2 separate regions of the Homo sapiens genome follow, and region 1 is linked to region 2. The links come from fine-mapping of genetic effects on gene expression. A gene starts in region 2. The other region holds a variant in brackets. All regions are shown on one strand. Distances are from middle to middle.

Region 1 (8,324 bases), 53 kb after region 2:
TCTTATTCGGAACTTGTGTCTTTCGTTTAGTTTCTCAATTCATACAGAACGGCATCCGGGCCTTCACCAATCGTTTTATATGACAAATGCTCTTTTTAACAACCCCACAATATCGCCCCTTACCACAAAAATCTTCCTTCAACTTAATCTCTCCCACTCTAGGTTCCCATGCCGCCCCTAATCCTTCTCGAAGCAGCCCTGAGAAATATCGCCCATTATCTCTCCATACCACCCCCAAAAATTTTCGCCGCCCCAATACTTTACCACTATTTCGTTTTATTTTTCTTATTAATATAAGAAGACAGGAATGTCAGGCCTCTGAGCCCAAGCTAAGCCGTCGTATCCCCCAGTGACCTGCACGTATACATCCAGATGGCCTGAAGTAACTGAAGAATCACAAAAGAAGTGAAAATGGCCTGTTCTTGCCTTAATTGATGACATTACCTTGTGAAATTCCTTCTCCTGGCTCATCCTGGCTCAAAAGCTCCCCCACTGAGCACCTTGTGTCCCTCACCCCTGCCCGCCAGAGAACAACCCCTTTTGACTGTAATTTTCCATTACCTACCCAAATCCTATAAAACGGCCCCACCCCTATCTCCCTTGGCTGACTCTCTTTTTGGACTCAGCCCGCCTGCACCCAGGTGACTAAAAAGCTTTATTGCTCACACAAAGCCTGTTTGGTGGTCTCTTCACATGGACGCGAGTGAAACCCATCTCTACTAAAAGTACTAACATTAGCCAGGTGTGGTGGTGTGCGTCTGTAATCCCAGCTACTCAGGAGAATCCCTTGAACTCGGGAGGTGGAGATTGCAGTGAGCCAAGATCACACCACTGCACTCTAGTCTGGGCGACAGAGCAAGACTCCGTCCAAAAAAAAAAAAAGAAGAAAAAAAAAGATGGGAGTCAGAAGAGTGGTCACCCTTTGGGGCAACTGACTTAAAGCGGTTTCAAGGGGGCGTTCTGGGGGCTGGTATGCTCTGTTCCTTTATCTGGGTGCTGGTTCACCTTTTAACCCTTGTGGAAATTCTTTGAGTTGTACTCTTAGAGTTTGCATACCTTTCTTTTCTCTTTTTCTTGTTTTTTAAGATAGGATCTCACTCTGTCACCCAGGCTGGAGTGCAGTGATGCTGTCATAGCTCACTGCAGCCTCAACTTTCCAAGGCTCAAGGGATTCTCCCTCCTTAGCCACCCGAGTAGCCAGGACTACAGGTGCGCACCACCGTGCCCAGTTCATTTTTTGATTTTTTTTTTTTTTTTTGTAGAGATGTGGCGGGCGGGGGGGTCTCTCTGTGTTGCCCAGGCTGGTCTCAAACTCCTGGCCTCAAGTGATCCTCCTGCCTCAGCCTCCCAAAGTGCTGGGATTATAGGTGCCAGCCACCGTGCCTGGCCTGCGTACTTTTCTATATGTATATTATATTTCAATAAATTAGTAAAGAGGAATGAAATGATATGGCGAATAAACAAAACAAATAATTCTGCAGTTAAGGAAATGTAATATGGGAGCCATGGCCTCCCTACGTTCTCTCCCTCCTTCCTTGAGATGAGAATATTTCTCTCTCTCTCTCTCTTTGCCACTCTTCTGGGAACATCCATTTCTCTTTTTCTCTTTTTTTTTTTTTTTTGCCAGAATGTTTCTCATTTCAAGAGAAAGTGCTGGCTGCCTACAGCATGTCAGACCCCAGCTGTTTTCCATACTTCTGCCTTTCCCTGCCTTTGGCAATGGAGTCTATCCTCTGAAAATTCTCTTCTGCAATGAGAAACCCCCACACTTTGCCCCCCTCCCCACCACCAAACAAGGCCCATTACTTCCTTCCAAACCCCAACCTGGCAGGTTCCCAGAAACAAAGTCCCTGACCCTTACCTGGGGTCTTTGGCTCAGCCTCAATTCCAGACTCCTGGCTCATCCTCCAGAGCTTGCTAGTGCTGCTCCAGTCCCTGGGATCTGCGGTACCCCTGGGACCCCAAGTCAAGACCTCCTCTTGGCTTACGTAAGGACATTTACAAACAGCCATTCCCAAATAACTCACATTTCTGAGGTTCTGGGTGGACAATGAATTCTTGGGGTATATTATTCAACCCAGTACAGATGTATTGCAGAAATAATCTCCCATCCCACAGATTGCCTTTCTACGTCTTACGGTTCTCCCTCCCTCCCTCCCTCCCTTCCTTCCTTCCTTCCCTCCATTCCTCCCTACCTCTCTTTCTTTCTTTCCCTTCTTTTCTTCCTTCTTCCCCAGCTCTCTCCCTCCTTTTCTCTTTCTTTTTCTTTCTTTCTTTCTCTCTCTCTCTTTCTGTCTCTCTCCCTTCCTTCCTTCCTTCCTTCCTTTCTTTCTTTCTTTCTTTCTTTCTTTCTTTCTTTCTTTCTTCCTTCCTTCCTTCCTTCCATCCTCCCTCCCTCCCTCCCTCCATACCTCTTTCTCTCTCTTTCTTTTCTTTTTCTTTTCTTTGCAGTGGTGCAATCATAGCTCCCTGCAACCTCAAGATCCTGGGCTCAAGCAGTCCTCCCACCTCAGCCTTCTGAGTAGCTGGAACTACAGGCATGCACCACCATGTTCTGCTAACTTAAAAAAAAAATTGTAGAGATGGGGTCTTGCTGTGTTGCCCAGGCTGGTCTTGAATTCCTGGCCTCAATCTCCTGGACTTAAGTGATCCTCCCACCTCAGCCTCCCAAAGTGCTAGGATTACAGGCAGGAGCTGCTGTGCCTGGCCTCTTATGGATGTCTTCTAATGGATTTTAATATAGTTTTATTTATCAGCTTTCCTCCTGTATGGGTAAGTGATTATACCCTGTTTATAAAACATTTGAGGCTGGACATGGTGGCTCACACCAGTAATCCCAGCACTGTGGGAGGCCGAGGCAGGCAGATCACTGGAGGTCAGGAGTTCAAGACCAACCTGGCCAATGTGGTGAAATCCCGTCTCTATTAAAAATACAAAAATTAGCCAGGTGTGATAGTGAGTGCCTGTAGTCTCAGCTACTCGGGAGGCTGAGGCAGGAGAATAGCTTGAGTTTGGAAGGTGGAGTTTGCAGTGAGCCAAGATTACGCCACTGCACTCCGGCCTGGGCGATAGAGACTCCATTTCAAAAAAAAAAAAATTTGAGTCCCTTCACCCAAGAGGCATGTCTGTCTATAAATGGCTTCTGCTGAAACTCCTCCTTTTTTTTTTTTTTTTCTTTTTTTCTTTTTGAGACAGAGTCTTGCTCTTGTCACGCAGGCTGGAGTGCAATGGCACGATCTCGGCTCACTGCAACTTCTGCCTCCCGGGTTCAAGCAATTCTCCTGCCTCAGCCTCCCGAGTAGCTGGGATTACAGGCACCCGCCACCACACCTGGCTAATTTTTGTATTTTTAGTAGAGACAAGGTTTTGTCATGTTGGCCAGGCTGGTCTCAAACTCCTGGCCTCGTGATCCACCCGCCTCAGCTCCCAAAGGGCTGGGATTACAGGTGTGAGCCACCACGCCTGGCTGAAACTCCCTCTTGGTACTTGTGTCCGAGGCCCCCTCAGTCAGGACCTTGAGTATGCCCTTGATGTCAGCCCATAGCTGGCGGCCCTGGCTCCTGCTCTCTTCCCTCCAGGCCCTTCCCTGTGGCTGAAGCCCCTTCCCTGTACCCTCCAGGTTGCTTCCTGGGCTCCAGATTCCTCTGTGTGGATCTCCCAGGAGCCCCCATCTGCTGTGGTTCCCAGGGTCTAGGCTGCCATCTGGGCTTCCCACTTCTCGGCCTCTCAAAGTGCTGGGATTACAGGCGTGAGCTGCTGTGCCAGGCTGTAAGTTTTAATGAGGTCATAAGGATGGGACTCTGATCCAACATGACAGATGTCCTTATAAGAAAAGAAGCCAGGCCTGGGTGACTCATGCCTGTAATCCCAGCACTCCCAGGCGGGAGGATTGCTTCAGCCCAGAAGTTCAACAAGTAAGTAAGGTTTTTTTTCCATCCTTTTTTTGTTTTGAGACAGGGTCTCACTCTGTCACCGACGCTGGAGTGCAGAGGTGTGATCACAGCTCACGGCAGCCTCCACCTCCCCAAGCTCAAGTGATTCTCCCACCTCACCCTCCCAAGCAGCTGGGACCACAGGCATGCACCACCACACCTGGCTACTTTGTTTTTATTTTTATTTATTTATTTAGAGACAGAGTCTTGCTGTGTTACCCAGGCATGTTACCCACGATTTCAGCTCACTGCAGCCTCTGCCTCCTCTGGCTCAAGCAATCCTCTTACCTCAGTCTCCCGAGTAGCTGGGACTACAGGCATGCGCCACCACACCCAGATACTTTCTGTATTTTTAGCAGAGATGGGGTTTCACCGCGTTGGCCAGGCTGGTCTCAAACTCCTGACCTCAGGTGATCCACCCACTTCGGCCTCCCAAAGTGCTGGGATTACAGGCGTGAGCCGCCATGCCTGGCTGTAAGTTTTAATGAGGTCATAAGGATGGGACTCTGATCCAATATGACAGGTGTCCTTATAAGAAAAGAAGCCACCAGGCATGGGTGACTCATGCCTGTAATCCCAGCACTCCCAGGTGGGAGGATTGCTTCAGCCCAGAAGTTCAAGACCAGCCTGGTCAACATAGTGAGATCCCATCTCTATAAAAAATAAAAATTAGCCAGACATAGTGGCGCACGCCTGTAGTCCCAGCTACTCAAGAGGCTCAAGCGGGAGGCTCCCTTGAGCCCAGGAGTTTGAAATCAGTCTGGGCAATGTAGTGAGACCCTATCTCTACATAAAATACAAAAATTAGCCGGGCGTGGTGGCACATGCCTGTAGTGCCAGCTACTTGGGAGGCCGAGGCAGGAGGATTGCTGGAGCCCAGGAGTTCAAGGCTGCAGTGAGCTGTGGTCACACCACTGCACTCCAGCCTGAGCAACAGAGCAAGACCCCTATCTCAAATAAATAAATAAATAAATAAATAAATAAATAAATAAATAAATAAATAAGTGTAACAGGGAGAGAGTAAAGAGGTTTTGTTTTGTTTTTTGTTTTTT[T/G]TTTTTTTAGATGGAGTCTTGCTCTGTCACCCAGGCTAGAGTGCAATGGTGCGATCTTGGATCACTGCAACCTCTGCCTCCCGGCTTTAAGCAATTCTCCTGTCTCAGCCTCCCAAGTAGCTGGGACTATAGGTGCCCACCACCATGCCCGGCTAATTTTTGTATTTTTAGTAGAGATGGGGTTTCACCATGTTGGCCAGGCTGGTCTGGAACTCCTGACTTCAAGTGATCTGCCTGCCTTGGCCTCCCAAAGTGCTGGAATTACAGGCATGGGCCACCGGGCCCGGCCAACAGTAAGGAGTTTTAAGCAGGGGAGTCACACGATGAGAGGACTCATTGATAAAGATGAGTCTGGCTGCTGTAAGGACACAATACTAGAGAGGGACAGAGGGATGTGGAGGCCCAGCATGAAGCCTCCTTTTGTCTCCATAACCCTTCAGCACAGGGTTCTGGAATGTATTTATGTGGCAAATGTTTGCTCGTTCTTTTTTTCTTTTTTTTGAGATGGAGTCTCGCTCTGTCAGGTTGGAGTGCAGGTCGGCTCACTGCAACCTCCACCTCCTGGGTTCAAGCAATTCTCCTGCCTCAGCCTCCCGAGTAGCTGGGACTATAGGTGCGCACCACCACATCCAGCTAATTTTTGTATTTTTAGTAGAGATATGGTTTCACCATGTTGACCAGACTGGTGTCAAACTGCTGACCTCAAGTGAGCTGGCCACCTCAGCCTCCCACAGTGCTGGGATTACAGGCATAAGTCACTGCATCCAGCCAAATGTTTGCTGAATTCTTACAGCCCCAGCAATGTCCAAGGCTCTGGAGACACCGTGGTGGACAGGACACCATCCCTGTCCTTAAGAAAGGTGAGTATAGAATTTGAGCATAAGTGGAGAAAGAACAAAGAGAGAAAGAAAGAGAGAGAGAGAGAGAGAGGGAGAGAGGGAGGGGAAGGGGAAGGGGAGGAAGGAAGGGGAAGGAAGAAAGGAAGAAGAAAGGAAGGAAGGGAGGAAGGGAGGGAGGGAGAGAGAGAGAAAGAAAGAAAGAAAGAAAAGAAAAGAAAAGAAAAGAAAGACAGAAAGAAATAAAGAAAAAGAAAGAAAGAAAAGAAAGCGGGCCAGGTGAGGTGGGTAACACCTGTAATCCCAGCATTTTGGAGGGCCTAGGTGGGCAGATCACTTGAAGTCAGGAGTCGAGCCCAGCCTGGGTAATATGGTGAAACCCTGTCTCTACTAAAAATAAAAAAATTAACTGGGCGTGGTGGTGCCCACCTGTAATCCCAGCTACTCGGGAGGCTGAGGCAGGAGAATCTCTTGAACCCAGCAGGCAGAGAATGCAGTGAGCCAAGATTGTGCCACTGCACTCCAGCCTGGGCGACATAGTGAGACTCTGTCAATAAAAAAAAGAAAGAAAGAAAAAGAGAGAGAGAGAGAAATAAGAGAGAAAGAGAAAGGAAGGAAGGAAGGAAGGAAGGGAGAGAAAGAGAAAGAGAGACCGCGTGCAGTGGCTCACACCTGTAATCCCAGCACTTTGGGAGGCTGAGGTGGGTGGATCCCTTGAGGTCAGGAGTTTGAGACCAGGCTGGCCAACATGGTGAAACTTGTCTGTACTAAAAATACAAAAATTAGCCAGGTGTGGTGGCACGTGCCTGTAATCCCACCTACTTGGGAGGCTGAGGCAGGAGAATTGCTTGAACCTGAGAGGCGGAGGTTGCAGTGAGCCGAGATCGCACCACTGCACTCCAGCGTGGGCAACAGAGCAAGACTCTATCTCAAACAAAAAAAAAAGAAGAAGAAAAAAGGAAAAAAAAAAAGAGAGAAGTAAGGAGTGGATGTAAAGAAACTCCCTTGTCTGCTGTCCCAGTGAGACCTACACATGGGGAGCTAGTGAGGGGAGCCAGAGGAGGCACAGTGTGTTAGGAGGGGTTCCCCAGCCCTGGGAAGCTCTTCCTGGAGGAAGCAGCATCCTGGCTTGTGTGCAACAGAGACCAAGCCGAATCAGGAGAATAAAAACATGTTTCGGCCGGGCGCCGTGGCTCACACCTGTAATCCCAGCACTTTGGGAGGCTGAGGCAGGAGGATTACTTGAGCCCAGGAGTTCAACACTAGCCTGGGCAATATAGTGGAACCCTGTCTCTACAAAATCTTAAAAATCAGCTGGGCATGGTGGCACATGTCTGTAGTCCCAGCTACTTGGGGAGCCTGAGGTGAGAGGATCGCTTGAGGCCAGGAGGTTGAAGTTGCAGTGAGACACGATCACACCACTGCACTCCAGCCTGGGTGACGGAGTGAGACCCTGTCTCAAACAAACAAACAACTAAAAAACCGTATCTCCTGGAGTTGGAAGAAAAACAAACTTTTTTGTTTGTTACCAGTTAATCCATTTACCCTGAAAGCGGTTCTAGGAGAGTGGTTTCTTTATTTCTCTTTCTTTCTTTCTTTCCTTCTTTCTTTCTCTCTCTTTCCTTCCTTCCTTCCTTCTTTCTTTCTTTCTCTCTTTCTTTTTCTATCTTTGTTTCTTGATCTCTTGCTTTCTTCTTTCTTTCTTTCTTGATCTCTTGCTTTCTTCTTTCTATCTTTCTTTCTTGCTCTCTTGCCTTCTTCTTTCTTTTTTTCTCTTTCTTTTTTTTTTTTTTGAAACAGGGTCTCCCTCTGTCACCCAGGCTGGAGTGCAGTGGTGCAATCTCGGCTCACTGCAGCCTCCAGCTCCTCGGTTCAAGCGATTCTCCTGCCTCAGCCTCCCAAGTAGCTGGGACTATAGGCATGCACTACCACGCCTGGCTAAGTTTTGTACTTTTAGTAGAGACAGGGTTTCACCATATTGCCCAGGCTGGTCTCGAACTCCTGACCTCAAGTGATCCACCTGCCTCGGCCCCCAAAAGTGCTGGGATTACAGGCATGAGCCATGACACCCGGCCTAGGGAGGTTTTCTTATCCCCTTTTACAGCCTAGAAAACTGTGGTTTGTTCAAGGCCACAAAACTCATGGATGGCAGAACCAAGGCTCAGAGCTGGGTCTGTGTCATGCCTGTGCCTTGTCCTGCCTCTGACAGTCTCAGAGTCCTACCCCCCAACCCTTAACGCTGAGAATGAACCTTCAGGGTGGCTTCCGCCAGGCTTTGTCCCGAAGCTAAAACTACTCTGTAGTTACAGGACCATATCAGAGCCAAGGGCAAATAGCAGCTAGATAGATAAGGGGAGGCATCTGCGGGTTAGCAAAAGTCAGCAAATTCCCTTCCAAACTTTCAATTGGCCAATAAAAAAAGGGAAATGCAGCCCATCCCACCAGCTTCGAGAACATAACAACGAACTGCCAGTTGCTTGGGAGAAGCGCAGCTCTTCCCCATT
Region 2 (8,324 bases):
ACCACTAACCATGAGCTTCAGGATGCAGGCAAGAGCAAGACACAGACCTGCCCTCAATAAGCTCAGTGTTCAATGGGGGCCACAGAGAGAAATGATGCCAGCACAAGGTCACAGGAACTAGGAGAGGTCACCAGCCCTGCTATAGTTCAGAGGAGGGAGTGGCCAATTTTGCCTCTCTGTCTACCCCAGCCAATGAGTCTCCACTGCACCCGCTGGGAAGTTTATCTGCCTAGTCTAGATGTCTCTTTATTTATGTTCTTCTGTCACTGGAATGCCCCATCCCCTCCTCCACCCAGCAAGCACTAACTCATGCTACAAGATGTGCTTCAGTCCTCGGGGAGGGCTCCCAACCCCAAAGCCTGTGCTTTATCCACGTGCTCTTGGTAATTATCCCATTACCTAGTACCACATCTATCCCTCTAAGGAAGAGTTAATCACAGCCTGCTTGATTGCTCACACTTCTGCTGTCTCGGGTTCGTCTCCCCAGTCAGATTATAACAATAATCACTGAACTAGTGCTCCACAGTTTACAAAATGCCTTCAGGCATATTGGGCTTAATTGAATCCCCACAATAAATCAGCCAGGTAAGTATTATGTTTATTTGACAATAAGGAAACCGAGGCTTAGAAAGGTTAGACAACTTCCCAGAGACCACAAGGCCCATGTACATGCCCAGCTGTAAGCCTCAAATGCCTTCTAACTCCAATGCCAGCATCTGCTCAGTACTCAGAGGCTGCCTGAGGCAGTGGGTAAAGGTTGAGACCGTTTCCAGCTGTGTGACTTCTGGTGAGTTACTTAACCTCTCTGTGCCTCAATCGTCCTGAGAGTAAAATGTGGCTGATACCCACCTCATCCGTTCTTGTCAAGATTTAAAAAGGTAATACAATGATGTCCTTAGAATACTGCCAAACACAATAATTAGTTAGTTATTATTATACCTTGGCTGATTCTCATGGTCTCCTAACTCATTAAATTTTTTCTAATTCATTTTTTATATCTCATAATACATTCTTCCCCTTTTTTCCCTTTGCTTACCAAGCTCTGCAACCTCATAATACATTTGATAGGTAGTCATTAAACAAAATAATTTTTTTGCAGATTGACTAACGTTGGGTTTAGGGCTGTTCTCTTTTCTTTTCTTTTCTTTTTCTTTTTCTTTTTTTTTTATTTGAGATGGGGTCTCACTCTGTTGCCCAGGCCGGAATGCAGTGGCACAATCTTTGCTCACTGCAACCTCTGCCTCCCGGGCTCAAGCAATCCTCCCACCTCAACCTCCAAAGTTACTGGGACAACAGGCACGTGATACCACAACCAGCTAATTTTATTTTTTGTAGAGATGGGGTCTTACTATGTTGTCCAGGCTGGTTCTTTTTCTTTACTCTCCTACACCCCTAAAGAGTTTCAACACCAGAGGCTGGGTGCAGTGGCTCACACCTGAAATCCCAGCACTTTGGGAGGCTGAGGTGGGAAGATCGCTTGAGGCTAGTTCAAGACCAGCCTGGGAAAACACAGTGAGACCTCCGTCTTAAAAAAAAAAAAAGTTAAAAATAAGAGTTTCAACATCAGAAAAATTCTCTTTTTCTGCTCCACTCTACTTCACCCCCACCCACCCCACCCAGGTCAAATCTGGCCAATCACAAATGTCCCACAGAATGTAAAACACCAGAAAACACTGACCTAGACTCTCCTGTTGGGCCGTCCCTGGATAGCAGGGAAACATACCACTCACGGGTGGAAACTTTCACAAACCTAATTTCTATCACTATTATGGGTCAAAGTCTTACGCATATTTCTCTATTGCTCTAGTTTTTACTTATTTGAGACTCTAGAAGGAACGGGTTGTTAAAAAATAATATCTATTTATTTTCTTATTTCATTTATTAAAAAAAAAAATAGGGCTGGGTGCCATGGCTCATGCCTGTAGTCCCAGCACTTTGGGAGGCAGAAGCAGAAGAATCACTTGACGCCAGGAGTTTGAGACCAGTCCGGGCAACACAGTGAGACCCCCATCTCTATGAAAATATAAAAATAAAAGGAATATACACACTGTTTCATGGAGCAAGAAGCCTCATGTAACTAGGCAGCTAGCAGAGGCACTAACATCCAAGACCAATGGAAAACTTCCTTCTTTTCAGGGGTCGGGTCCATGAAACCAGAGAACAAGCCTCAAACCTAGCTGGATCCTGGGAGGCAGAAGTGAAATGACCATTTCCCACTTCCCTCCTGGGGTAGGATAACCAGGTAGAGAAGACTCCCTGCTTCACACCATCCAGACACACCTGCATGGAGGCACTTTCTTTTTTTCTTTTTCTTTTTTTTTTTTGTAGAGACAGGGTCCCACTGCTTCACACTATCCAGACACACCTGCGCGCGGTTTTCTTTCTTTTTTTCACTTTTTTGTAGAGATAGAGTCTCACTCTGTCACCCAGGCTGGAGTGCAGTGGCACGATCATAGCCCACTGCAGCCTCAGCCTCCTGGCTCAAGTGACCCTCATGCCTCAGCCTCTCAAACAGCTGGGACTATAGGTGTATGCCACCACACGAGGATAATTTTAAAATTTTTTCAAAATAGAGGCGGGATCTCAGTGTGTTGTCTAGGCAGGTATCGAACTCCTGGGATCAAGTGATCCTCCCACCTTGGCCTCCCAAAGTACGGGGATTACAGGTGTGAGCTAATGCACCCAGCCTAATTTTTTTATTTTTTGTAGAGACAGGGTCGCACTATGTTGCCCAGGTGGGGGGCCAAAGGTTTTCAGAATAAGAAGAGGGGATGAAGTCCTCTGGGGGTGAAAAGCTTTATTCTTTTTTATTATTATTATTTTGAGACGGAGTTTCGCTCTTGTTGCCCAGGCTGGAGTGCAGTGGCGCCATCTCGGCTCACTGCAACCTTCACCTCCCAGATTCAAGCAATTCTGCTGGCCTCAGCCTCCCAAGTAGCTGGGATTACAAGCGTCTGCAACCACGCCCAGCTAATTTTTTGTATTTTTAGTAGAGACAGGGTTTCACCATGTTGGCCAGGCTGGTCTCAAACTCCTGACGTCAGGTGATCCACCCGCCTCGGCCTCCCAAAGTGCTGGGATTACAGGTGTGAGGTACCGCGCCCGGCCAAAAGCTCTATTCTTTGAAAGATTCCATATACAGAACCTTCAGTCAGATTCTCACTGTCTTTTCTAACTAAAATCCCAAAGCCCTTTCCCTCCAACTGTGTTTGGGGGAAGTATTCCTCGCATAACACATCAGGGGACCAGCCTCTGGAGAGGGGGACCCAAATGGATCTTCAAAGGTTCCACTCTGAGCACAAGAGTGTAGAAGAAATCTGCCCCTCCAGCATTGGCACTGGGATTAAAAGAAGCGTTGTACTCTTTGAAATGGATTTTACATACAAATGAATTGATGAACACCATCAACATGTCAGCTTAATTCAGCCCAATCAATACACCAGGCATTAAAAACTCGGAGAAAAAAATGGATTGTGGCTTTTTGTTGATGACACTGAGGAATTTTGGCCCCAAGCCCTGGCCAGGCAGGACAAATAGGGCAGTCTGCCTATTAGCTGTCAGGCACATCTTGGGGGATAAAACCAAGACCCCAAGTCAGGGCTCAGGGGCACCATGGTCTCCACTTTAGCCCCCAAAGTAATTTTCCCACAAAGTGGCCACACTTTGCATTTCCTACATTCCTTTTCCCTGCTCCGACCCCTTCCGCCCGGCCTCAGAGCTGACAGCTGGGGCTGGCCAGAGCCAAGCAAGAGGCATCGAGAAAGGGGGATGCTAAGGGGTGGGGGGTGGGAAGGGATGTCAATGCAACCAAGAAGTGATCGGAGGGGAAGAGAGGTCCCCTCACCCTTCACATTCCCAGCCCGGCGCCCCCACTCTCCGCCCCCACACTTGAGCCTCCAAGTGGCTCCCGTGCGCTTCCCTTGTTTAGGGGCAACCCTTCCATTCCGCCCCTTTTCAGTTCCTTCCCCTCTCACCTCATCTTGGGACTCCTGCCCGGTACCCAGCCGATCAGGCTCCTCTTGGCCACGCATCCTGCCATCTCCTCCGAGCCCGCCTCTGCCCTTCTCCCCAGGCCAGCTGGGGTACCCTGGGGTCCCCGACCTTCCTGGGATCGCCCAGATCTGCACGTCAATGCCCCCGCTCACTACACCCTCGCCCCGTCTTCAACTGGGGCCTGCAAGACTCCTACTCCCTTCAAAGCCCCTCCCGGACACCGCGTCCCTCAGGGTGCCCCAGGGATGCCCCGGGGTCCCCCGTCCTCACCTGAGTCCGCTCGAAGCTCTCGCGCTCCGCCGCCTCCAGCCCAGCGCCGACCCCGCGCCGGCTCAGCACCTTGGGCAGTGGGTTGGGCACCTGCTTCATGGAGCTGGCCATCCGATCCATGTCGCCGCGAGGAGCCGAGTCAGGGGCCCTCGGCTGCCCCGGGATCCCCACGGCGCCGCCCGCCCCGCCCTACCCGCGGGGATCCGGCGCTAACGGGACGGCTCCCGCCTGCCATTGGCTGTGAGTTCTGCCAGTCTTCCAGAGACCCCGCCCCTCGCCGAACGGCTTCCCCGCCCGCCCCCGCCCCTTCAGGAGCCCCTCCGCTGGCTCGGCCCCGACTAGCCTCTCGGGGCCTCGAGGCGCGTGGTGACTGGTCTGGAGTCCTGTCAGTCACCGTGGTCCCGCCGTTCTAGGCAGGGCCGGGGCGGGGTGCGGACGGGGCGAGGCCTGGATGGGGCGTGGCCTGGGCGGGCTGCCCTGATATGCCCTCGCTCGCCCCGCCCCCGCCCGCGCACCGCCCTCTCCTCCCCTCGGCCGCAGTCCCCGCGCGCCCCGAGCGTGCTGCCCTCCGCCAAGCGCCGCCCACTACCCTGCCCGCTCCTGCAGGGGGCTATCCCGCGACGGCCCGTGGAGATGGGCGGGGATGACGCGGGCCGGGCAGTGGGGCCTCCCCCGGGGGAATCCCAGCCCGCCTGCGAATAGCCCGTTAGCTCCTTCCGGGCCTGGGACCCGGGAGCGCCGGACTGACCAGCCCTGCGGCCGCAGCCCGGGAAAGCGCAGCCCCGCGGGCGGGGCGCAGCGTGGGCGCCTGGCCGGATCCGGCTCAATGGGTGGCCGCCCCCACCCAGCTCCCAGGCTTCCCCGTCCTGCACTTCTCCATTCTGCCCCTGCCCATGCCCTCTGCAAGGATCGCAGAGCCCAGGTCCCGGAGTTCGGGGCTGAGTCCGCGGGCACCTCCCGGGACCTGCCTCCCAAACCTCATCAAAGGAACCCGTCAGAGCTTATTTGTTGGTAGAAAGCCCTGTAGACACTTTCGGTTTATCTTAGGCTCTGAGCCGCGCGTCCCATCCTGCTCAGACGTCAGCCAGGGTACCAGCAAGCAGAGAGAAGTGTGATGCTTAGCAGGAGTGCTGGAGAAAGTTAAAAGTTTTCCGTTAAACTCCAATTTAGGTGTGTTTTTGTTTTTGTTTTTGTTTGTTTTTTTTTTTTTTTTTGGTTTCATTTGGAGTCAGTCTCCCTCTGTCGCCCAGGCTGGAGTGCAGATCGTAACACACTGGGACCTTGAGCTCCTGGGTCCTAGCGATTTTCCTGCCTCGGCCTCTCGAGTAGCTGGGACTACAGATGCACGCCACCAAGCCTGGCTATCTTTTTTGCAGAGATGGAGTCTTTCTATGTTGCCCAGACTGGTCTCGAACTCGTGGCCTCAAGCAAGCCTCCCACCTTGGCCTCCCAAAGTACTGTGATTACAGACATGAGCTACAGCACCCGGCATAGATGTATTTTTTAAAAGTTATTTGAAACTCGGAGTAATGAATGGCACCTTTAGGCCTAACAATTTGGTGATTCGTGTGTGTGTGTGTGTGTGTGTGTGTGTTGTAAATTTGGCCAGGTGCGGTGGCTTACACCTGTAATCTCAGCGCTTTGGGAGGCTGAGGCAGGCGGATCGTTTGAGCTCTGAACTTTGAAACCAGCCTGGGCAACATAGCAAGACTCCATCTGTACAAAAAATTTTAAAATTAGCTGGGCGTGGTGGTGCAAGCCTGTAGTCCCAGCTACTCACAAGGCGGGAGGATTACTTGAGCCAGGGAGGCAGAGGTTGCAGTGAGCAGAGATCGCGCCACTGCACTCCAGCCTGGGAGACAGAGCGAGACCCCGTCTCAAAAAAATATATACATATTTCTTTGTAGTGAGGGGTATGTTGCTGGATTGCCCAGGCTGGTCATGATCTCCTGGGCTCAAATGATCCTACCACCTCAGCCTCCCAAAGCACTGGGATTACAGGTGTGAGCCACCCTGCCCTGCCTGTTTTTTTTTTGTTTTTGTTTTTATTTTTTTTAATAAGAGCGTTTGGTAAAAATTCACACATTCAATAGAGAAGTGAAAGAGGGGTGGGCATTTGCGGTTACTAAGGAGCCACTGAAGACTTTTGCTCAGATGTGTGCACTGAGGAGCTTGTATTGTGGGGATGGATTATGGGGGCCTGATGGAAGGGAGGAAATCAGTGGGGAGACTCTAGCGTAGATGAGAGATGATGAGGGCCTAGAAGAGAAGGGAGAGGAGGAAGTTCTGTCCCGTGGGAGGTTACGCAAATAAGGCTTGGACACAGGGATTGGGGGATGGGCAATGGCGGTGCCATTCAGGCTACATTTGCATAGGAAGGACTGGACTGGTTTCACCTTTACTTAAATTGTGTTTCTGTGGGAGGCTTTGGGAGTGCCCCCTCCCTTGTGTTGCTTTGGGAGAGATTAGATGTCACCTGATTTTTCATGTCTAGGGAGAGGGAGATGACAACTGAGCGTGGGAGCACGGTAGGGGCGCTGACAGAGGAAGAGGAAATTACCTTGGCCGGGCACCGTGGCTCACACCTGTAATCCCAGCACTTTGGGAGGTCGAGGCGGGCAGATCACTTGAGGCCAGGAGTTCAAAATCAGCCTGGCCAACATGGTGAAATTCTGTCTCTACTAAAAAATACAAAAAAGTAGCCAGGTGTGGTGGCATGTGCCTGTAATCCCAGCTACTCGAGAAGCTGAGGCTGGAGAATCACTTGAGCCTGGGAGGCGAAGGCTGCAGTGAGCTGAGATCGCACCAGTGAACTCCAGCCTGCATGACAGAGTGAAACTCTATCTCCAAAAAGCAAAAAACAAAAAACAAACAAACAAAAATCTCAATTTTTAAAAAACATTTATTTATTTAGAGATAGGGTGTAGTGACTTCCTGCTGTTCCAGCAAATCCTGGTGCTTTGCCAATTTACCCGTCCTGGTTGATTCCCCTAACTCAGGTCACACCTTTGTACATAGTTTCTTCCTTTTTTTTTTTTAAGAGACAGACTCTCGCTCTGTTGCCCAGGCTGGAGTGCAGTGTCGCAATCTCAGCTCACTGCAGGCTCTGCCTCCCAGGTTCAAGTTATTCTCCTGCCTCAGCCTCCCAAGTAGCTGGGATTACAGGTGTATGCCACCATGCCCGGCCAATTTTTGTATTGTTAGTACAGACAGAGTTCCACCATGTTGGCCAGGCTGGTCTCGAACTCCTGACCTCAAGTGATCTGCCCGCCTCAGCCTCCCAAAGTGCTGGGATTACAGGCATGAGCCACCATGCCCATCCATGTCTGGCTAATTTTTAAAAAATTTTTTGTGGCCGTGCCACAGTGGCTCATGCCTGTAATCCCAGCACTTTGTGAGGCCAAGGCAGGCAGCTCACTTGAGGCCAGGAGTTCGAGACCAGCCTGGGCAACGTGGCAAAACCCCGTCTTTACTAAAAATACAAAAATTAGCAGGGTGTGATGGCACGCGCCTGTAATCCCAGCTATTTGGGAGGCTGAGGCACGAGAATCGCTTGAACCCTGGAGGTGGAGGTTGCAGTGAGCCAAGTGTGATGGTGCACACCTGTAATCCCAGCTCCTCAGGAGACTGAGACGGGAGGATCCCTTGAGCCCAGGAGGTCGAGGCTGCAGTGAGCTATGATTGCACCCCTGCACGCCAGCCTGAGAGACCGAGACCCTCTCTCAGGAAAAAGAAAGAGAAGGAACTATGTACAAAGGTGTGACCTGAGTTAAGGGAATCAACCGGGACAGGTAAAGCACCAGATATTACTGGAACACCAGGAAGCTGTTACCATCTCTAGACCTAAAGAGAAAAGGGGAGGGAGCTGTGCTGTAACCTGGTGGGGGCTCTGGTCATGGGAAAGTAGGCATTTTCCCAGAGCTGTGACCTTAGGTAGAAAACCCACAGTCACTGTGGAAAGTGGCGTGGCAGGGAGGCAGCTGGGGGATGAATACCCCAATCTCTCTCTCTCTCTTTTTTTGTTTTTTCACGACAGGGTCTCATTCTATTGCCCAGGCTGG

What was found. PIP is the estimated chance that this variant, and not a neighbour inherited with it, causes the effect.
Region 1: its variant is the best candidate, but not a certain one, in a credible set for the expression of HIP1 in whole blood (INTERVAL, PIP 0.82).

The regions. Positions count from the first base shown.
Region 1 is chr7:75,787,856-75,796,179 of GRCh38, forward strand. It overlaps a transcript of CCL26 not described here. Among named protein-coding and RNA genes, the nearest start is that of CCL26, 20 kb to the left of the region's middle. RefSeq lists enhancers at 1-548, 549-1,407. The variant T/G (reference allele first, on the strand shown) is at 4,985.
Region 2 is chr7:75,734,538-75,742,861 of GRCh38, forward strand. HIP1 (huntingtin interacting protein 1) reads right to left here and starts at 4,404. Exons shown (of 31, transcript NM_005338.7): 1 at 4,264-4,404. The coding sequence starts at 4,383. RefSeq lists a silencer at 4,192-5,181.